Linked DNA regions of Homo sapiens. The protein of the gene in region 1 purifies or fractionates together with the protein of each later gene. This does not show direct contact. Each region holds a gene or a part of one and is shown in the gene's direction. Other genes may lie near its edges. The genes, in order: SMTN, FAM170A, PROZ and P4HA2.

Evidence for each region.
Region 2: the proteins of SMTN (region 1) and FAM170A purify together in Homo sapiens (co-immunoprecipitation; one large-scale study listed by IntAct). This does not show direct contact.
Region 3: the proteins of SMTN (region 1) and PROZ purify together in Homo sapiens (co-immunoprecipitation; one large-scale study listed by IntAct). This does not show direct contact.
Region 4: the proteins of SMTN (region 1) and P4HA2 purify together in Homo sapiens (co-immunoprecipitation; one large-scale study listed by IntAct). This does not show direct contact.

What each region holds. Positions count from the first base shown.
Region 1 is NC_000022.11:31,093,555-31,099,072, forward strand, and holds part of SMTN (smoothelin), read left to right. Parts: intron 1-229; coding exon of another isoform or gene 230-322; intron 323-1,748; coding exon 1,749-1,901; intron 1,902-1,979; coding exon 1,980-2,055; intron 2,056-2,297; coding exon of another isoform or gene 2,298-2,377; exon of another isoform or gene 2,378-3,178; coding exon 3,179-3,343; intron 3,344-3,443; coding exon 3,444-3,506; coding exon of another isoform or gene 3,507-3,714; coding exon 3,715-3,784; intron 3,785-5,112; coding exon 5,113-5,286; intron 5,287-5,507; coding exon 5,508-5,518. UniProt on the Homo sapiens protein: Structural protein of the cytoskeleton.
Region 2 is NC_000005.10:119,631,382-119,637,164, forward strand, and holds the end of FAM170A (protein FAM170A), read left to right. Parts: intron 1-1,366; coding exon 1,367-1,507; intron 1,508-2,578; coding exon 2,579-3,353; intron 3,354-3,646; coding exon 3,647-3,653; 3' UTR 3,654-3,705; intron 3,706-4,318; 3' UTR 4,319-4,441; downstream 4,442-5,783. UniProt on the Homo sapiens protein: Acts as a nuclear transcription factor that positively regulates the expression of heat shock genes. Binds to heat shock promoter elements (HSE).
Region 3 is NC_000013.11:113,163,979-113,169,496, forward strand, and holds part of PROZ (vitamin K-dependent protein Z isoform 2 precursor), read left to right. Parts: intron 1-534; coding exon 535-666; intron 667-1,023; exon of another isoform or gene 1,024-1,074; coding exon 1,075-1,142; exon of another isoform or gene 1,143-1,205; intron 1,206-2,119; coding exon of another isoform or gene 2,120-2,191; exon of another isoform or gene 2,192-2,261; intron 2,262-5,518. UniProt on the Homo sapiens protein: Appears to assist hemostasis by binding thrombin and promoting its association with phospholipid vesicles. Inhibits activity of the coagulation protease factor Xa in the presence of SERPINA10, calcium and phospholipids.
Region 4 is NC_000005.10:132,206,736-132,211,433, reverse strand, and holds part of P4HA2 (prolyl 4-hydroxylase subunit alpha-2 isoform 2 precursor), read left to right. Parts: intron 1-910; coding exon 911-1,150; intron 1,151-2,102; coding exon 2,103-2,296; intron 2,297-3,549; coding exon 3,550-3,726; intron 3,727-4,698. UniProt on the Homo sapiens protein: Catalyzes the post-translational formation of 4-hydroxyproline in -Xaa-Pro-Gly- sequences in collagens and other proteins.

The sequences.
Region 1 (5,518 bases):
AGTGACCCAGGCAGCCGAGGTAGCTGTAGCCACCGTGGAGCCGGTGGCCCGGGCAGCTGAAGAGCTGCGGGCAGAGAGAGCAGCACTGAGCCGGCGGCTGGATGCACTGAGCAGGCAGGTGGAGGTGCTGAGCCTACGGCTGGGGGTCCCACTTGTGTCCGGCCTTGAGCCTGAGCTGGAGCCCAGCGAGCTGCTCCTGGCTGCCGCCGACCCCGAGGCCCTCTTTCAGGCTGCCGAGGATGCCGGGACCCCCGTGGCCCACCCACCTGCCTTCAGCACCCGCCGCCGCTCCTCCACCGGCACCACCCGCAGCACTAGTCTCGTAAGTGCTTCTGGGTTGGTGGGAGGGGTAGTTTTGAGCCAGGCTCTGCCTCCTCTTGACTTTAGGTATGTCACCACCTTCTCTGAGCCTCAGTTTATCTATCTTGACAGGGGACTGGGGCACTAGTGCTCTAAGACTAGGGCAAGAGGGTGCCAGGCTCCAGCCCTGAGGCATGTGTGGCAGCTGCCTTGGCAGCCCCTGGCATGACCCAGGCCCCAGCCCCCAGCTCCCTGCCGCCCTGCACCCTGGCCAGACCAAGCCTCCCTGAAACAGCTGCCACCTCAGCTCTCCTTACCCTTATAGCAGACGGAGAGGCCCTGCCAGGAGAGGAAGGGCCATAATAGTTGGCTTGGGGCCTTGTCTTCAAGGGGCTAGGGAGATGCCCTGGGAGGGCTGCAGGGCTAGAGACTCCTTAGAGGATGGTTTCCAGCAGGGGCGAGGCAGGGGGAGGTGGTACAGAGGAGAGCTTCATAGAGGTCTTGGCTCAGGGCAGCCCCAGTCAGACACCTGGTCAGGAGCCTACAGGCCCCGGGCCAGCCCTCTTGGCAAGGTAGCAGGCAGATGGGGGGCAACATGTGCTGCCTGGGCACTGGCCCAGGAGGACCTAGGCCTCGGGAACTGGCAGCACAGAGCAGAGCCTGCCTGGGAGGGGGCTGGGAACAAAGCAGCAAAATGAACTAAGGTTCAGGAGTTAGGCTGCCTTCAGCTCAGATCCCAGGCTGCATCACACTTAGAGAGAGACTGTGGGCAAGTCAGTTAGCTGCCCTGAGCCTCAGTTTCCCCTTCTGTTTTTTTTTTTTTTTTTTCCGGTCTTGTTTTCTTTGCAACAGGGTCTTACTCTCTTGCCCAGACTGGAGTGCAGCTGCATGATCATAGCTCTCTGCAGCCTCTAACTCCTGGGCTCAAGTAATCCTCCTACCTCAGCTTTCTGAGTAGGTGGGACTACAGGTGCACACCACCATGCCTAGCTAATTTTTTATTTTTGTTTTTGTAGAGATGCGGTCTCGCTATGTTACCCAGGTTGGTCTCAAACTGCTGGCAACAAGTGATCCCTCCCACCTCGGCCTCCCAAACTGTTGACATTACAGGCATGAGCCACTGCGCCCGGCCTTCCCTTCTGTTAAATAGGGACAGTAAAGTCCCTAGTGTTTATACAACACTTACTATGGACTGGAAATCATCATTATTATCACTATCCATTGTATTAATACAATTCGGGGTACGTGGGAAGCCCTACAACAAAACTGTCAGTGCCTCTTCCCTGACTGACGCTGACATGGCCATCTTTGGGCAGGCAGGCTGGCAGGCTAGTGGTTATTTCCAAGGCGTGCCAGCAACCCTAGGATCTGCTTCCCTATCCATTGGAGACATGATGAGTTTCACCCATACCCCTGCTTAAAGTCCATGCCCTCTCCCCACCCTGCAGATGGAAGCAGAGCCAGCAGAGCCTCTCGCTGCAGCAGTGGAAGCGGCCAATGGGGCTGAGCAGACCCGAGTGAACAAAGCACCAGAAGGGCGGAGCCCTCTGAGCGCTGAGGAGCTGATGACTATTGAGGATGAAGGAGTCTTGGACAAGATGGTATAGCCAGATCCGGTGGGCTGGGGGTTGGCAGAGGCCAGCAGGCACCAGGTAGGCAATGATGGGCTCTATATGCAGCTGGATCAGAGCACGGACTTTGAAGAGCGGAAGCTCATCCGGGCTGCACTTCGTGAGCTCCGACAAAGGAAGAGAGGTAGAGAGCCAGTTGCCCTACCCTAGATCCAGCTGCCCCATTCCCCAGCTGCTCCCCTCATACTCTGGGGTCCATTTGTGGACACCCCAGCTTAATAACTGCCCTACCCAGCTTCTCCTTCTCTAGACCCAGCAGTTCCCTTGGCTATTCCCTGCTGGATCCAGCTGCTCCTTCCCTAGCTCCTTCTCTCCCGCTGGTGACCCCAGTTATTCTCCCCAACCAGCTTCTCTTCTCCTTCCTAGACCCAGATACTCCCTCCCGCAGCTACTCTCTCCTTGGATCCAGTTGCCTCTCAAAGTACTGTCAACGACTCCTTCCCTGAATCCAGATACTCCTTCTCCCTGCTGCTCCTCTCTCCCTGAAGTCCATTGATGGCCATCTTAGCCTCTGCCCCATCCAGCTTCCCTTTTCCTGGACACAACTACTTCCTCCCCCAGATAGTTCTTCCCTGGACACATCTATTCATTCCCTTAGATTCTGGGTTCAATTGCTTCTCCTCTCAAACACTCTCAATTACTCCTCTGAATCTAGCTGCTTCTGCCAGGGCCCACTGATGGCCACCCCAGTCTCTATCTCTACCCACCTACTTCTATTTTAAGCCCAGTTAACCCCCTTCACTAGCTTCTCTCCCAGCTACTCTTCCCCTGGATCAGATTGCTTCTCAGATCCCATCAATTGCTCCCTTCCTGGATCTAAATATTCCTGCCTCCAGCTGCTCTTCTCCTCCAACCAAAGACCTGCTGATGGCCCACCCAGCTACTTCCTCACTCAGCTTCTCCTTCCTTGGACTCAGCTACCCCCTCACTAGATCTAGATACCCCTCCTGACTTAGCTACTCATGCCTATAGAAACCCTTTTTGGATCCATACCCCTTTGAGTTTAGCTACTCCGTATTCTCTAGTTTCTGCCTGAGTCCATCAAACCCTTCCCACACTCCATTCCCTGTCAAGTTATGGCTGTCCCCTCACCCCAGCTGCTCCTAGAGAGGCCCTTGTTACCTGTGTCATTCATGTTTCTAACAAGCCACCCTCCACCCCGTCTTGTGTGCCCCATGCACCTGTGCATCTGTGCTGTGTGGGTGTTGGTGGCCCTTTTGCGCATGCATGGGGCATCCCCTGCCCAGACCAGCGGGACAAGGAGCGGGAACGGCGGCTGCAGGAGGCACGGGGCCGGCCAGGGGAGGGGCGCGGCAACACAGCCACTGAGACCACCACGAGGCACAGCCAGCGGGCAGCTGATGGCTCTGCTGTCAGCACTGTTACCAAGACTGAGCGGCTCGTCCACTCCAGTAAGGGGCCAAATGGGGCCGGCCCAGGGCTCAGGGTGGGAACACATCCTCCCCCAGCCCCCTGTGCCTTTCACATCCTTCTCATCCCCTGCCCCTGCAGATGATGGCACACGGACGGCCCGCACCACCACAGTGGAGTCGAGTTTCGTGAGGCGCTCGGAGAGTAAGGCCACCTGGTGTCGCCCTGTGCCTGCCTGCCTGTCCGCCCACCTCCTCCGGCTCTTCCTTGAGCTCTCTCTCCGTGTCTTCAACTGTGCCGTCACTTTCTCTTCTCTGCCTGCGGCTATCACCACCCCTCCATACAGCCTCCCATCCCATCTCCTGATGTCCAGCCCAGGCCCTCACCTGGTGCCCCTTCCCCTTTTTTGCAGATGGCAGTGGCAGCACCATGATGCAAACCAAGACCTTCTCCTCTTCCTCCTCATCCAAGAAGATGGGCAGGTGAGCACCAGCACCCAATCCCTGACCATAGAGGAGTCAGTGCCACAGGGGACCTAACTGCAAACCCGTTTTACAGAGGGGTGGGCTGGGCACAGTGGCTCTTGCCTGTAATCCCAGCACTTTGGGAGGCCGAGGTGGGCGGATCACTTGAGGTCAGGAGTTCAAGACCAGCCTGGCCAACATGGTAAAACCTCATCTCTACTAAAAATACAAAAATTAGCCGGGCGTGGTGGCAGGCACCTGTAATCCCAACTACTGGGGAGGCCGAGGCACAAGAATCACTTGAACCTGGGAGGCGGAGGTTGCAGTGAGCTGAGATCACTCCACTGCACTCCAGTCTGGGCAACAGAGCGAGACTCAGTCTCAAAAATAAATAGATAAATAAATAAATAAATAAATAAATAAATAAATAAAACAGAGGGGTAGACTGGGATGCTGGGAGGTAATAGGTCTATAGCCAGGGAGGGGCAAAGTGAGAGTTAAGGATCCTGCTCTCCTTGGGATCTCATTTTATTCTCAACCACACCACAGGAGAGGTGGATGCTCAGGGAGGCCAGTGAGTTGCTTAGGGGCTCACATCTCTGAGTGGCTGCAATAGCATTGAACACTTACAGAGGCCTACCTACCACACTGAGCTGCCTGGTGGCACTGCCACTTCCCAGTATCTGCAAACCATGTCCCAGGTCACACAGCACCTTTATACCTTAGCCCCATGAGAAAGGAGGGTACCCCCATGTAACAGAGGCTGTTGGGGCTGGCAGAAAGCAGGAACAGGATCAGAATCCAGGATGAGAACCAAAGGGGTCCAGAGACTCTGAATCAGAGAGACCTTGTTCAAGTTCTAGTTCCGCCCATCACGTCCTCTGAAATCTTAGGCAAGTTACTGCCAGAGGTCTCAGTTTCCTCACCTTTAGTGGAATTGGTAAGGCCCCTCCCTGCTCTTGTGAAGTTTAAAATGGCACACAGGAAAGGATCAACAGAGATGAATTATTATTATTACTATTATTATGCTAGTCATCATTTTTATTATCGGATAGTGCCCAGAAGCTGAACTCCCCTGTAACTTGAGGGTACAATGAGGCTTCTCAGAGAACTACTCGTGGGTGGGGGAGGGGGAGGCGGAAACCTGTTGAAAACCTTGCTGTCATTTGAGACTCAGTGTACTCCTCTAAAATGCGTGTGATGAGGACGCCTCCCTCCCTGGCAGGCGTTTGTGGCAGTGGAGATACTAGTGTGCTACAAGACCCCCCCTCCTCCTCGCGAGTGGTGGTCCAGGCTGGGGAGCAGCCCTGCTCTCCCTGCCTAACATGCGCCTCCCCAACCCCTAGCATCTTCGACCGCGAGGACCAGGCCAGCCCACGGGCCGGCAGCCTGGCGGCGCTCGAGAAACGGCAGGCCGAGAAGAAGAAAGAGCTGATGAAGGCGCAGAGTCTGCCCAAGACCTCAGCCTCCCAGGCGCGCAAGGCCATGATTGAGAAGCTGGAGAAGGAGGGCGCGGCCGGGTGAGCTGCAGAAGTGGGCTGGGCAGTGGGGGGCGGGGCGTGATAGGCAGTGGGGGGCGGGGCTTGATAGTTGGCCCGGCAGAGGCGGGAAGACCGCGCGGCTAGATCTGTGGTGCAAAGGCCCGAAGGTCATGGAAGGCGGGGCCTGGGATCCACTGGGTGGGCCCACCGAGGCATGCCCCTTATAGTCGTGTGACCTGGTCCTGACACCGCCCCTACAGCAGCCCTGGCG
Region 2 (5,783 bases), on another chromosome or scaffold:
TGTCTGCCTGTGTGTGTGTCTGTGTGTGCACATGTGTGTGTGTGTTGGGAGGGGGAGGACTGGAGATAATGGGAGCACAGTGGTGGGGTCTGCGGGGTGAACTTCCTATCACCATGCCTGGGCCTGGGCAACACTCAATACACATAACAGTGTATACCGAATTTTTGTTAAGGGTATTCCAGGAGACAGTCACTCATATGCCCATATATACTCTGATACAGAGAAAGAGTCACACACCTCCACACACAGTGGATATAGTTATATACACATACCGTTCCTCTATTACATACTCACACAACCCATGTGTGTGACAGTCTTTTCTTCCTACAGAGATTTCTTGTGTGTGGGGAGTGTGTGTGTGTGTCTCCTCAACTCTCACACAAACACATCTATGTTAAACTATCTCTAAATACCTCTTTAAGAGCCAGTCACACATCATACATGCCATATCTGCAACACATTGTGTAGCAGAGCCAGGCCTGCTTTGCATAGACCACAACGAAACAAAGATTCACCACCATCCCCTTATTAGGGTTGCCGGATAAAATACAGGATGTTCAGTTAAACTTGAATATCAGATAAACCACCAATGATTTTTTAGTATAAGTGTGTCCCAAATATTTTATGGAACATACTGACACTAAAAATAAGTATGACAAATATTGCACGGGACATACTTACGCTAAAAAAATTATTTGTAATTTATCTAAAATTCAAATTTAACTTGGCATCAGCTATTTTTGTTTGCTAAATCTGATGACCCTTATAAATTCATAATGAGCTGACCTATGATATACTTATATATTTCTGCTTAATGTCTGTCTTCCTTGTCTAGAATGGAAAGTCCACTTAGAAGAAGGACTGTTTTGTTCAGTATTCCTAGAGCCTAGAAGAGTGGACTGGTGTCTGATTCATGGTAGCTGTTCATGAAAATATTGCCAGATGAATGAATTAATGTACATTATAAATACAAGCCACACCATACAATCAGGAAAAATTACATATTGCATAATTTCAGGGTTGTAAACACAAAACTATGCACACAAACTCCACAGACACAGACACATGTTTCTACAATATACCCACACAAATCTACACATATCAAAGGCTATCTGGTATGTATCACTCTTACGCTTCAGACGTACTCATAGTCACCACACAGGCCTATGTTCCTATTGATACACTATCAAAATACCTGTTGACTGTAATTAAATACTGGAGTATCCACCAGAAGCCTGTCTCACAAACCATGTGTGTTCACTACACCTGACATAGGTCAGCCACTCAGTAAATATTTGTTGGATGGTAAATGATGCACAAACATTACCCATCCATCATATCTCTGTTCCCTTCATACCTTTCTCAGGAATGTCAAAGTCCCAAGAGGATGCCCTGCAGCCTGGATCCACTAGAGTGGCCAAAGGCTGGAGCCAAGGGGTGGGAGAAGTTACTTCTACCTCCGAATACTGCTCCTGCGTTTCTTCTTCACGCAAGCTCATCCACAGTGGTAAGGGTGCAGGGTTCCTTCGGCACGTGGCTCCTTGGCTGTGGGGTTCATTGGGCATGAAAATATTTGAGTGTGGGGCTCTGTGGGCATGAGACTCTTTGGTTGCAGTGCTGCTTGGGTGTAAGACTCTTTGGGAGTGGGGCTTTTTGGGTTTGGGGCTCCTTCGGTGTGACAGTCTTTGGGTGTGGGGCTCCTTGGATGTGACATTCTCTGGGTGTGAGGTTCCTTGAGCATGAGACTCTGGATGCAGGGCGCTATGGGTATGTGACTCTTTGGGTGCTGGACTCCTTAGGCATGGGATTGGGTGCAGGGCTCCTTGGGTAGGGGGCAGGAGGCCCATAGATCCAAGGATGAGGCTAAGAAGAAACCCAGGGCAGTTGGATATGATCAGAGCTCTGCAGAGGTGTCTGGGCAAGATGACAGAGCTGTTAGAAGAGCATGGATATAAGCTCAGTGTAGGAGAGCATGAGCCCTGGTGTGCAGTCAGGCAGTCAGGGAGCAGAGGCCAGAAAAGTCTGCTGTTGGGGTGTAGGGCCACAGGACCAGATTAAGCACTTTCATCGGAACTATTTGGGCTCTGCCTTTGCCTTCCAGAGAAAGACAGATTTCCTCAGCCCAGGCCTCCAGCACTGCAGCGGGACTCTAGCTCAGGCCCACACACCTCACACATACAGCCACACGCTCCACAGGTACACTTTCTGCACACACACCACCCAAATGCATGACCTGCAGTGCCATTCTCCCACACTACCTCCCACATTCCACAAATAACACATCAATGATGGCACCAACTCACATCCTCATAGCACACACATGCTGCCGACATTCCACATATGCTGCAGTCCTCACCACCATACTCCACACCCCTGTATATGGACACCCCACCAACATCCCTACACGCAAATGACACTAGAATCACTACCCCACAATATGAACAACAAATACCAAGCTCACTACACAGCTGCATCTCACCACAGTCCCTGTCTCCTGCACCACACATATTTAACTTACGTTCCCTCAGCTCCTAGCATGGCCCATGCATCTGCTCATGTTTCTAATTTCCTTTCCCAGGAATCCAGAGAATACATCGAGACAGCCCCCAGCCTCAATCACCCCTGGCCCAGGTTCAGGAACGAGGAGAGACTCCTCCCCGCTCACAACATGTCTCCTTGTCGTCCTATTCATCCTATAAGACTTGTGTGTCCTCTCTGTGTGTAAACAAAGAGGAAAGGGGCATGAAAATATACTACATGCAGGTACAAATGAACAAAGGTGTGGCTGTCTCCTGGGAGACAGAGGAAACTTTGGAGTCCTTAGAAAAGCAGCCAAGGATGGAAGAAGTGACCCTTTCTGAGGTTGTGAGGGTAGGTACTCCCCCCTCTGATGTGTCCACCAGAAACCTCCTGTCTGACAGTGAGCCCAGTGGGGAGGAGAAAGAGCATGAGGAAAGGACAGAATCAGACAGCCTGCCAGGCTCACCCACCGTTGAGGACACACCCAGAGCCAAGACTCCTGACTGGCTGGTGACCATGGAGAACGGCTTCAGGTGCATGGCCTGCTGCCGGGTGTTCACCACCATGGAAGCCCTCCAGGAGCATGTGCAGTTTGGGATCAGAGAGGGCTTCAGCTGCCACGTCTTTCATCTCACCATGGCTCAGCTGACAGGCAACATGGAATCAGAGAGCACCCAAGATGAGCAGGAGGAGGAAAATGGAAATGAGAAGGAGGAGGAAGAGAAACCAGAAGCAAAGGAGGAGGAGGGGCAGCCCACAGAAGAAGACCTTGGCCTGAGGAGATCCTGGAGCCAATGTCCAGGCTGTGTGTTTCATTCTCCAAAGGACAGGAAGTGAGCAAAGCCTGGGTTGTGGGTCTGCTGAGGGAGCAATGGCTTCCCCGAGCCAGTACTGTCTCCCCAGTTCAGGCTTAGGTCTCTGTAAGGAAGATTTGGGGGCTTTATTGGCTCAGGGAACAATGGAGGGGGACATAACTGGGATCCCTGCTTCTTGCCTAGGCATCTAATAAAGTCTCGATTGTAAGTCAGGATTTGTCTTGACCTTTCCAGCTCCTGCAGGAAATTCTGAGAATTTCAAAAGTCGCATTAACTAAGAAGTGTCTTTCTTTGGTTTGATTTTCACACAGCAGCTGAGACTTATGGGCCAGAAGATACTGGAAGATGGTGTGGCCTTCTCTTGCAAGAGGTAAGGAGTGAGACTTGCAGTTTTCTGAGGCTGTGTTGTGAGGGCCCAGAGGAATCCAAGGGAAGGAGCTGCAGGGATGCACTGGGTCACCTGGTGGCTCTGCAGCCACATCAACTTATCGTGCACCTGGTGCTTCTGGGGGAATTGTCCTCCATTTGCTTAGATGACAAGGTGAAGAGCATTGACTGGGAACTTTCTCAATGTCTGCATGATTGTCCTCAATTCTAAGAGGAGGTGCTGCAGCTCTTCTAGGCAGCGGAAGCTCAGTGTAACCTCAAGGGCCAGGATTGGCCTGAAAGGACAGGATGCCAGCAAGATCAGAGGTGTGGAGTCTGAGAGCCTTTGGCCTGAGCTGGGATCCCACCTGAGCCCATAGATATAGCCCTTGGGGAAAAGGGGAATTTGGAGAGGTAACAACATCATCCTGATGAGACACCAAGAGAACTGGAAATGTTTCAGAACCTTCATTTTGCTGCATTTGATCTGGAAATGAACTCACTGTGGGTTGCATGACTCTGAGCTTCAAAACAAAGGTGAAGGGTAACTGACTAGCAATGCTTGTATTGTTTCTTGCCTCTTCCTCTTCTGCCTCAATTGTTTTCTTCACTTCCAGGGAGAAGAAAGAGCCATGGAGATAGTAGCAGACAGGCTGCCCAAGGTATGAAGCAGATGAGGGACCAGCACTCAGTCTAACATGTAAACATCATACGTAATAAAGGTTGTGTTTCAAACCTTACCTGGATATATTATTTAATTAACAAATTAATCTACCTATCTATTCATCATTTTCTTTTTTTTTCCTTTTTCTTTTTCTTCTTCTTCTTCTTTTTTTTTTTTTGAGATGGAGTTTCATTTTTGTTGCCCAGGCTGGAGTGCGATGGCATGATCTCGGCTCACTGCAACCTCTGCCTCCTGAATTAAAGTGATTCTCCTGCCTCAGCCTCCCAAGTAGCTGGGATTACAGGCATGTGCCAGCACACACAGCTAATTTTGTATTTTTTTAGTAGAGATGAGGTTTCACCATGTTGGTCAGGCTGGTCTCGAACTCCTGGGCTCAAGTGTTCTACCCGCCTGGGCCTCCCAAAGTGCTGGGTTTGCAGGCGTGAGCCACGGCGCCCAGCCCTATTCATTATTTTCATCTATCTCTCCAGTGGTTTGTGAACGAAGTTTTACATCAGCACTAAAGATATCTACCAGCCTTTTCCAGAGGCAGCAATAGCCAAGCTCCTGGGTTTGATTAGACTTCTGTGTGACAATTTTTTCAAGGCTGGATATCACATTTCATATGAGACCATGACAAACTCCACTACATACCTATGTTTCCATCATCCCGCTTTATTAAGCTTAGCATTTTTCTACGTTTGCTTCAGATGGCTTTGAAGTAAAAATGATTACAAATACAGCCATAGTCCCCTGTTCCATTGCCTTACATATGGATTTTGAGTATTTTTTAATACTTCTGTGCATGTTTTATACTATTATATAAATATATAAAGTGTTTTGAATATCTTGAAAGTTTCACATACTATTGTACTTCATTATTAGTTTTCAACTTGTTTTTATTAAAAAACAGGTTTTTAAGATTATCCATTGTCATACACATATCTGTAGTTAACTAATTTTTACTACTGTATTATAGTTCATTCTATGAATATGCCAACTTTTTATTTATTGTCTTTTTGATGAAATTTCAGTTGCATCCAAATTTCCTCTATTACCACAGAATGTGTGTCTCTCTCTAGAATGTATACCCAGACATCCATTGCTGTGCTGAATTATATAGATATTTCAGTTTAGTAGTTACTGCCGTGGTGTATTTCTTTCTTTGTTCAAGCATTTTTTTTCTTTCTTCATTCTTCAATAATGATTAATGCTTTTCTGCACAAATGTTATATACAATTTTTATTCGATGCAGTCCAAGATATCTTTTCTTTTCATTCTCCTTGTAAATGGTATGTTTTTTCTATTATATCTTAGAATTGGTTATTACTGATGCATATTTTAAATTTTCATTTCACATCTAGCAACCTTTTTGAAATTTTTCAGGTGTAAGTATTTCTATATAGTATTCTGTATTT
Region 3 (5,518 bases), on another chromosome or scaffold:
TAATTTTTATTTTATTTTTGAGATGGAGTCTCGCTCTGTCGCCAGGCTGGAGTGCAGTGACGCGATGTCAGCTCACTGCAACCTTTTGCCTCCTGGGTTCAAGTGATTCTCCTGCCTCAGCCTCCCGAGTAACTGGGACTACAGGCACGCGCCACCACGCCTGGCTAATTTTTGTATTTTTAGTAGAGATGGGGTTTCACCATGTTGGCCAGGCTGGTCTTGATCTCCTGACCTCGTGATCCGCCCACCTCGGCCTCCCAAAGTGCTGGGATTACAGGCATGAGCCACCGCGCCCGGCCTCACTCACGGAGTCTTTGTTCTACATGCACATTCCTGAAATACGGACATGTGGGAAACACTGACACAGAGGACAACGATCTGAAGAGAATGAGAACACATGGACCAACACACCAGAACTCTTGTGTGCAAGGCTGTGATAAAATGAACATGGACCAACACACAGAACTGTGTGCAAGGCTGTGATAAAATGACTATTTCCAAGCTAGCATTTCCTTTTTTTTTTTTCCTTTTCAGCTAAAAATGAATGTCACCCAGAGCGGACTGATGGGTGTCAACACTTCTGCCTCCCAGGACAGGAATCCTACACATGCAGCTGTGCTCAGGGCTACAGGCTTGGTGAGGACCACAAACAGTGTGTGCCCCACGGTGAGTGCTCAGACCACAGCGGCCTCCAGCTTCCAATGCCAGCGACCCCGTCCACATCCTCCTTCCTTCTGTAGTACTGGGTGAAGCCCGCGGATTTGTGATAAGCAGTTGCCACGACTCAGAAGGTGGTCCGCGTCTCCACGCTGGAGCAATGGCCATGCTAGAAAGTGCAGTTTCTGTCACTAGTGCTTGCTCGGACCACTCTGAGCTAAACCATGAGTGCTGTGAGGGGTGGTTTAACTCCAGTCTGTGTGTCTGTGAATTACTGCACATTCATCAGCATTAAGGATAAGATTATAATGGTTAGTACCATAGACGGAATTATGCAACGGTTAACACCATAGACAGAGTCCGATATTCGCTGAGAAGGCGCTGATTTTTATTCTCATGTTGCTGCCGCAAATGCAGACCAGTGTGCCTGCGGGGTGCTGACCTCTGAGAAGCGTGCACCGGATCTACAGGACCTCCCGTGGCAGGTAACAGAGCGCTCTCCGCGTGCTTCAATTTATTGTTATGACTTTCACCTCACTTGTCATTTCCTAAATAGAAATGTTGACAACTAAGTGAATCAGGCATCCTGACTTTGATGGGCTACTGACTGCACTGACCAACCTCTATTCACACTTCCAACCATGTTCTAATGCCGAGTTCATAACTAATACAAAAGGACAGCATTATTTACAGCCCCCAAGACCTTTCCTCTGCAGTTCCAAACTGTTACCAATGTCATTTTCTCAGAACATAAGCATCTCAAAATCTCTGCTCTCGGCTGCTGGCCTGGCATTCTAGCTTTGTTACTTTGTTCACTAAATTTCTCTAGTTTGGCATTCATTTTTGTTCTCCTTTTCCCCTCCTTGGCTGGTTTAGAAGTTAACCATTCATTTGTTTTTGGTTTGTTTTTTTTGAGATGGAGTCTCAATCTGTCACCCAGCCTGGAGTGCAGTGGTCCAGTCCCGGCTCACTGCAACCTCTGCCTCCTGGGCACAAGCGCTTTCCCTGCCTCCACCTCCTGAGTAGCTGGGATTACAGGAATGTGCCACCACGCCCGGCTGATTTTTATATTTTTAGTAGAGACGGGGTTTCACCATGTTGGACAGGATGGTCTCGAATGCCTGACCTCAAGTGACCCACCTGCCTTGGCCTCCCAAAGTGCTGGGATTACAGGCGTGAGCCACCACGCCTGGCCTCATCATTCACTTTCTGTTTACTTAATGGTCACTCTTGACACATAAACATCCATATTTAGCACAAGTAGTCAGCTATTTCTCCCTCCTCAGGCTAATTCCCAGCACCTCATTCTGGGTCCATTTGCTGTCTGGCCAGTATTTTATTCTTTTCTTGCTTTCTGTATATCTTCACAAAATAGATATTACGATTTTTGTTATTATGGTTTTATACCACCCACACTGGCTTTGATTTACTTACCTCATTTTCCACTTTCCTTGCCTTTCAGGCCTCTAACACAATTATCTCCTGCCTGAGTATATCCTTCAGAACAGCCTTGTCCAATAGAAATGCAGTGTAAACCACATAATTTAAAATTTTCTAGTAGCCACAATAATGTAAGTAAAAGCATGTGAAATTTGGATATTTAACCCAATATGTGTCATTATTTCCCCATGTAATGAATATAAACATTATTGAGGTTATTTGCCTTTTTCCTTTACACTGAATCTTTGGAATCTGGTGTGAATTTACACTGAGGTGCAGCCCTCGTGTCCACAATGCTCCGTACCCGAGTGTGGCTGCCGTGTGGATGGCACAGCCTCAGGGGCCCCCCTTGTGAGTAATAAGCCCCTGAGGTTTCTGTGTGTGACACCCGTCAGTTTCACCCGACTCTTACAAGACAGCTGTGCCCAGCCCACTCATTCTGGCAGTTGTGTGGACTGGCAGAGAACAGGATGGAGCTCAAGGACTTGAAGCCACCCAGCTCCAAGGTGGAGAGGAAGAAACCGAAGGGAGGCAAAGCAGACGGAGTGATGGAAGGCGGGGATGGAAGCGGGAATGGTCTATCACCAGCTTTGCAAACTTCCTCTCAATCTTTTATCACTTTTCCTGCCCAAGCTTTCTAAGACAGTTCTTCCTATCGCTGTCTGCCCCATGAGTGCGCTGAGGGTCGGTACTTGGGAGGCCCAGAGTGCAGTGGTCCTCCATAGGTAGTGACAGGGTCTGGCTCTACCACCTGCAGGCTGTCTCCAGCTTCCCAGCTTACCCAAGGGAAGAGAGGGTGCGGTTCTAGTCTGCAACCGTAGCACTCATACCAGCAAGGCTAAGAGCCATATAACCAGGGAGGAGGCATTCTCTAAACACAGCTGGTGTGTTTAAGACAGAGGACACTGACTTAGGCAGGCTACATACTATTAGATTTTTTACTTCAGTATTATAAATTGTTCTGAAGTTATTTAACTGAATATATGGAATTTTCCTAAAACAAACTTTGAAAAGGAGAATAATTAAGTGACCTAGCAGGACATAGGGTTGAAGATTATCTTTAGAACTTCCTTGTTTCTTACATCCTAGGGAAGAAGTATCACTAAAAGTCTGGCAGACTGATGGCGCAAGTGCCGTCTTCTCTCGAACTTGGTTTTATCCCCTTTAAAGTGAGGATCTCACCCCTAGAGGTGCAGTGAGGATTACAGATAACGTTCTTGACTTATGGTAGGTATTCAACAAGTGGCAGCTATTATTCATAAACACATGAAGAGTTCCAGGAACGACGCCACGGTAAAGTTGGAAAAACACTTTCTCACTTGGCTCAGCATTTTGCATTAGACGGTTGAAAACTGCAACACTTAACACTTCCAGAGCCAGTACCCGTGCTATGTGGGCACATGCTTTATTTCATTTAATCTTTCAAACAACTTCTCGTTTTCTCCTTTTGTATCCCTGGTAATATTATTTGCTCTAAAATCCCCTTTGTCTGATATTGATATAGACACTTTACTTTCTAATTATTAGTGTTAGCATGACTTATCTTTTTCCAATCTTCTACTTTTAGCCTATTTGTATTTTTATAAAGTGCATGTTTAAAAAATAAATAAGGTACATGTTTTATAGGTAGTATATAATTGGCTTTCATTTTTATCCAGTGTGAAAAACCTCTGCCTTTTAATTGGGGTATTTAGGCCATTTTACATTTATTGTAATTGTCGATATGTTTACGGTTAAAGCTATCATCTTGCTATCTTTTATTTTTCTTATCTGTTCTTTTCCCCTTTTTCTGCCTTCTGTTAGATTAACTATATATTGTTATGATTCTGTTTTCTCTCCTTTGTTGGTTTATCATCTCTGGTTCTTTGTTGGCGGTTGCTTCACAGTTTGGAGAATGCATCTTTACCCTATCACAGTCCACTCCACTTTCGCCGACGCCACATCCGCTCGCTGTAGCATGAGTCCTTACAGCAATCATGCCCCATTCCTCCCCTCCTGACCTGGGTGCTGGTTTTGGCATAGGTCTTACATCTACAGATGTTATAAATGCCACTCTATACTTCCATTATTTTTGTTTAAACAGTATCCTGTAAAGAAGTTTAAAGAATAAGGAAAAAAACCTTACATATATAGTGGAATGCGGATAAATATTTAATGGGATGTCATAACCTTTTCCAGTGTTCCTTGCTGCTTTGTGTAAATCCAGGCCTCCCTCTGGTATCGTTTTCCTCCTGCCTAAAGGGCCCCTTTGATATCTGCTGTGCTGTGAGGCGTCTGGGGAAGAAGCCTTCTTGCGTTTGTCTGGAGGAGTCTTTGTTCATCTTCATCTATGAAAGGCATTGCGTCTGGCGCAGAGCCCCAGGCTGGCAGCAGTCCTCTCCTCTCTGCACTTGGGCCTGCCCCACTGCCTTCCTGTCTGCCTTGTGCCACAAGACGGCTCCCATCACCCTGCTGCTGTTCCTCACATGTCCTTACCTGTGGCACTTTTAAGATTTTAAATGCTTTTTAATTTTAACTTTCTAAGATTTCCTCTATCATGGATTTTGAATTTAATTATACTGTGTATTGTTTTCATGTTTCTTGCACATAGGGTTTGTTGAGATTCTTGTATTTGTGGGCTAATATCGCTTGTCAAATTTGAAAAATATTTGGTCATAATTTTCTTTTTTTTGAGACCGGGTCTCGCCCTATTGCCTGGGCTGGAGTGTAGTGGTGTGATCATGGCTCACTGCAGCCTCAACCTCCTGGGTTCAGGTGATCCTCCCACCTCAGCGTCTTGAGTAGCTGGGACCATAGGTGTGCACGACCACACACAGCTAATTTTTAAATTTCATGTAGAGATGGGGTCTTGCTATGTTGCTCAGGCTGGTCTCAAACTCCTGGGCTCAAGCAATCCTTCCACCTCAGCCTCCCAAAGTGCTGGGATTATAGGCGTGAGCCACCATGCCTGGCCCATTATTTTCAGATTTTTTTTCTCTCCTCCTTCTCCCTGCTCTGTTTTGGGACTCTAATTACATGTATCTTAAGCTGTTTGAAATCCCATAGCTCAGAGATGGTCTGTTCATTTTTCAAAAATCTCCGTTCTCTCCGTGTTTTACTTTTGATAGTTTCTGTTGTGATGCCTTCAAGGTCATCAATCTGTTCTTCTGCAATGTCTAATCTGCCATTCATCCTGGCCAGTGGATGTTTAACCTCATATATTGTAGCTGTCATCCAAAAATTTAATTTAGGTTTTTAAAAATACGTATTTTTGTCTCTACTTAACTTTTTGAACATTTGGACTACAGTTACAATCACTGTTTAATTGTCCTTGTCTACTAATATCTGTCAGTGCTGACTCAGTTTTGGGATATTTTTCTTCTCATTATGGGTCACATTTTCCTGTTTGTATGCCGTAATGGATTTCCAGACATGTGAATTT
Region 4 (4,698 bases), on another chromosome or scaffold:
TTGCTGTTAATGGGGCTGTGGGGAGTCTTCCTTGCTTTCCAGGGAGAGTCACAGCCCCCACTTCCCCTCCATGGTATCTGCTTTCTCATTATTCTCTGAGGAACCACACACATAGTCTTTCCCATCTTGAGCTCACCCTAAATCCTGCATCTCCCTATAGCTGCTTCTTCATATTGGCTTGAAACTATCTTCATGGTCACTTTCCAGCACTCCCTCTACAGCAGATGACCTTTGGTCATAAGACCCACTGAACTGATACTCAGCAAGGTCCCTGCCACTTAACAGCCAAAGCTGGCACTGCAACCTTGGCTCTTGGCCTCCCTTGGTGTCTCTCACACCACTCCCGCTCCCTCTGTTTCTCCTATCTTTAGTTCATTCTCAGGGTTATTCATTGTCTGTTCTTTCTGGGTAGGTGCTCCCTGGAGCTCTGGCCTTAGTCATCTTCTCCATTCTTTCCTCAGAGTTCCTGCAAGCTATTTTCCTCACCCATGGCTTGGTTGCCACCTAAATTTATGTTTTTTATATTCAGCTAATTTTTCCATCCTCTAGACTCATATGGCAAACTGCCCACCAGACATCTTCTTCTCTGTGGTCCACAGGACCTTCCCACTGTCCTCAACAATGCTTCCTGGTGGGTTTCTGGGGCTCCCCCTAAAAAGGCCCCTTCCCACTTGGGAGATGGGGAATCTGAGGCTAAGAGGTGGCTGTGAACCCCAGTCCAGGGCAGGGCTGGGCCATCTGTCTGTGCTCACTGTGTCAGTGGCCCTTTAGGATATGCAGTCTAAATGTCCGATGGAGTTCTGCTTGGTGATGCCCCCTATCCAGTGGCTCAGGCTTTCCTTGAAGTGGGAATCTCTTTCCCTAATCCAGAGGCTCTTTGGAGCCTGACAATTTACTTCCCCTGCTGTAGGAACCAAGTACCAGGCAATGCTGAGTGTGGATGACTGCTTTGGGATGGGCCGCTCGGCCTACAATGAAGGGGACTATTATCATACGGTGTTGTGGATGGAGCAGGTGCTAAAGCAGCTTGATGCCGGGGAGGAGGCCACCACAACCAAGTCACAGGTGCTGGACTACCTCAGCTATGCTGTCTTCCAGTTGGGTGATCTGCACCGTGCCCTGGAGCTCACCCGCCGCCTGCTCTCCCTTGGTAAGGAGATTCTAGGGGAAGGTAAGATGGGAATGGAGAGTGGCAGAGGAACTGCACTGTGCTGGCATCTGCCTGACCCCTCTCCTGGGACTGAGTCAGTTTACCCTGTCACTTGGCCAGTGACTAATGCCTTACTGACTTTAGGACCAGTCCAGCTTCTTACTAGCTCCTTACCCACCTCAATCCTGGCCTTAGGTTTGCGCAGTCGCTGATAGATACGCTCAGGCCTGTGGCACTTGTGGGCCTTTTTAATAAGGACTCTGTTATGGTGTATCTGTCACCATGCAGGACTACACAGGGTGGAACCTTTACTACATCAGGAGCAGCTCAGGAGTCAGGTTGTACTTTAGGATTGTTACAGTGACAAACAGTAGCGGTGCTATTAGAGGCCTGAGGTCTAATAGTAGGACTTCATATGGCATTGATACTTTGTGTGCCTTGTGCTGTTGGACTGAAGAAGGCCAAAAGCACTGTGCCTTTAAAACTCATCTACCTTTTTTTTTTTTTTTTTTTGAGACAGAGTCTCACTCATCCAGCCTGGAGAGCAGTGGCACGATCTCAGCTCACTGTAACCTCCGCCTCCCGGGTTGATGAGATTTTCCTGCCTCAGCCTCCCAGGTGGCTGGGATTACAGAGGCACATGCCCCATGTTGTATTTTCTTTAGTAGAGATGAGGTTTTACCATGTTGGTCAGGCTGGTCTCGAACTCGTGACCTCACGTGATCCACCCGCCTCGGCCTCCCAAAGTGCTGGGATTGCAGGTATGAGCCACCGCACCTGGCCTCTGTTGGTTTTCCAGTTACGACCAGCGTACTCTGGTTAGATGCTGTGGAAGGTAGAATGCAGCATGCAGGTGAGCTGCTGGGAGAGAAACCCTTACAGAATAATTTCTCTAAATGACCTAACAGATGTTTGTGGTTTCCTTTTCCTTCTCATTCCTTGCATTTTCTAGACCCAAGCCACGAACGAGCTGGAGGGAATCTGCGGTACTTTGAGCAGTTATTGGAGGAAGAGAGAGAAAAAACGTTAACAAATCAGACAGAAGCTGAGCTAGCAACCCCAGAAGGCATCTATGAGAGGCCTGTGGACTACCTGCCTGAGAGGGATGTTTACGAGAGCCTCTGTCGTGGGGAGGGTGTCAAACTGGTGAGATGTGTGAGGGGGCTAGGGTGCCAAAGCTGTGGACCTGGACTCTGGCTCTGGGCAGGCAGATTTGGGGAAGGTGTTCTTTATTCTGTAGGTACTTTTCTCAGTATATCCCCCAGTTTTTCATGGCATCTCCTGAGGCTGACATGTGGATATTCTCTGAGGTGTAGGAAAGGAGACTCTCTCCCCTCGTGCCCCAGGTAGAGTGTTGCTCCTCTAAGTTACCAGTGAGCTCGCCTCCTTACCCCAATATGTCCCACTTTTTGCTTCACTCACTGTTGGGAAGAAAACAATGGGTGGACGTACCTCAGGCCCCAAAAGAAGTCATGGTATAAGTGGAGAGTAAGTCTCTGTGGTAAAGACACCAGCGTGTACTAGAGCTTGGTATCGAGCCTTTGAGAGCCCTGGGATCCTAGTGCTTCCTGAGGAGGCCCAGGTGTGACAGGCTCTGAGCCTTTTCCATGCCCCTGTCTGCATGGCTTCTACTGGCTCCTCCACCAAGAAAGGTTTCTCCCCTGTCCCAGCCCTTCAGACCTACTCAAGTCTTCACGAAAAGGGTCAGGAATTACTTTCTGCCATGGGACTTGAGGATGTGAGGTGATTTTGGGAGAGAAGAAAAATTGCATGATTTGTGGGGTGTTATTTCATGCCAGTTAAGCTGAAGGGGCTCTCCTCTCCTCTCCCCTCCCCCCATTCCCCCCTCTCCTCCCCTCCCCCCCTCCCCTCCCCCTCCCCTCCCCCTCCCCTCCCCCTTCTCCTCCTCTCTCCTCCCCTCCCTCCCTCCCTTCCTTTCTTCCTTCCTTTTTCTTCTCTTTTTCCTGTTTCCTCTTTTTCCTTTTCTTTTCTTTCTTTCGTCTCACCCTGTCGCCCAGGCTGGTGTGCAGTGGTATAATCATAGCTCACTGCAGCTTTGACCTCCCAGCCTTGAGCAATCCTCCTGCCTCAGTCTCCTGAGTAGCTGGGACTACAGGTATGCACCATCATGCCTGGCTAATTTTTTAGAGACAGGTCTATGTCATCTAGGCTGGTCCCAAACTCCTGGTCTCAAGCTATCCTTTGGCCCCCCAGAGTTCTCGGATTACAGGCATGAGCCACTGTGCATGCCCACCTGCTGGGACTTTTGTTTTCTTCTGTGGTGTGGTGGGAGGGAGCAGCTGCTGGCCATGAGGTGAGTCCAGTGTCTGCAGACAGCCAGACTGGGACCGAGGATTAGGACTCACTCAGCTCAGGGCCTGTTACTCTGTGCTTTCCAGACACCCCGTAGACAGAAGAGGCTTTTCTGTAGGTACCACCATGGCAACAGGGCCCCACAGCTGCTCATTGCCCCCTTCAAAGAGGAGGACGAGTGGGACAGCCCGCACATCGTCAGGTACTACGATGTCATGTCTGATGAGGAAATCGAGAGGATCAAGGAGATCGCAAAACCTAAAGTAGGTGTCACTGTAGGTCCTTCTCGGGTCACTGAAGGGGGAAGGTCCTTTTTCTCATCCCTAGCACTATGGGTGGTTGGTTTGCCCATCTAGCCACCCTTTATCCATATCTAGCATGGGCCTACCGTGGGGATACAGAGATGCTTCAGACTCAGCCTGACCTTGTGAGTTCATGGTCCAGTGGAAGAAGAACAGGGTAACCAATGTGGACAGCCAAGTGCTATCATAGAAGGTCACGCTGGGAACAGGGCAGGTCTACACTGGTGTGTCAGTTCACCTGGTTGGGAGACTGGTGCGTGGGTGAGTTTTTTGGAAATGTTCCATAGGATGCTATGAAGCTGGGTCCTGTGGAGCTCCTGATTAGGACTGTAAATGAGGTGAATGACTTAGAGGAGAATGTATATCTTTATAATATTGGGTCTTCTCATCCAAGGGCATGACAGGTCTCTCCATATCTTTTTAAGTTTTCTTCATATAAGCCTTGAACATTTCTTAAGTTTATTCCTTGGTAGTTTCTTTGTTACTGTTAATTTACTTTATTTCTTCATTATTATTTTTAACTGGTTACATTATTTTATTAGTTTACTATTATATGCCAAACTATTGATTTTACAAATACATTTCATAGTAAGAGCTAATGTTTACTGAATTCTTAACTGTGGCAGGAACTTCTAAGTGCTTAACATATATATTAAGTGTTATGTCACAGTTATGAACAGCTGCTCATAATGATGTCACTGTCTCTGTTTTACCTATGAAAAAGCAAACTCATACAGATTGCAGCTAGTGGTTGAATTTACTTATTTCTTTTTTGGTTTTTAGCTGATTTCTCTTTGGTTGCCTGGATAGCATTAACACCTGGAAATAAGGAAAATTTTATTTTCTCCTGATACTTGTAGTTCCTTTGTTTTTATAACCTTATTGAATTGCCCAGAACTTCTAGAGCATAATTACGTAGAATAGGCATCCTTG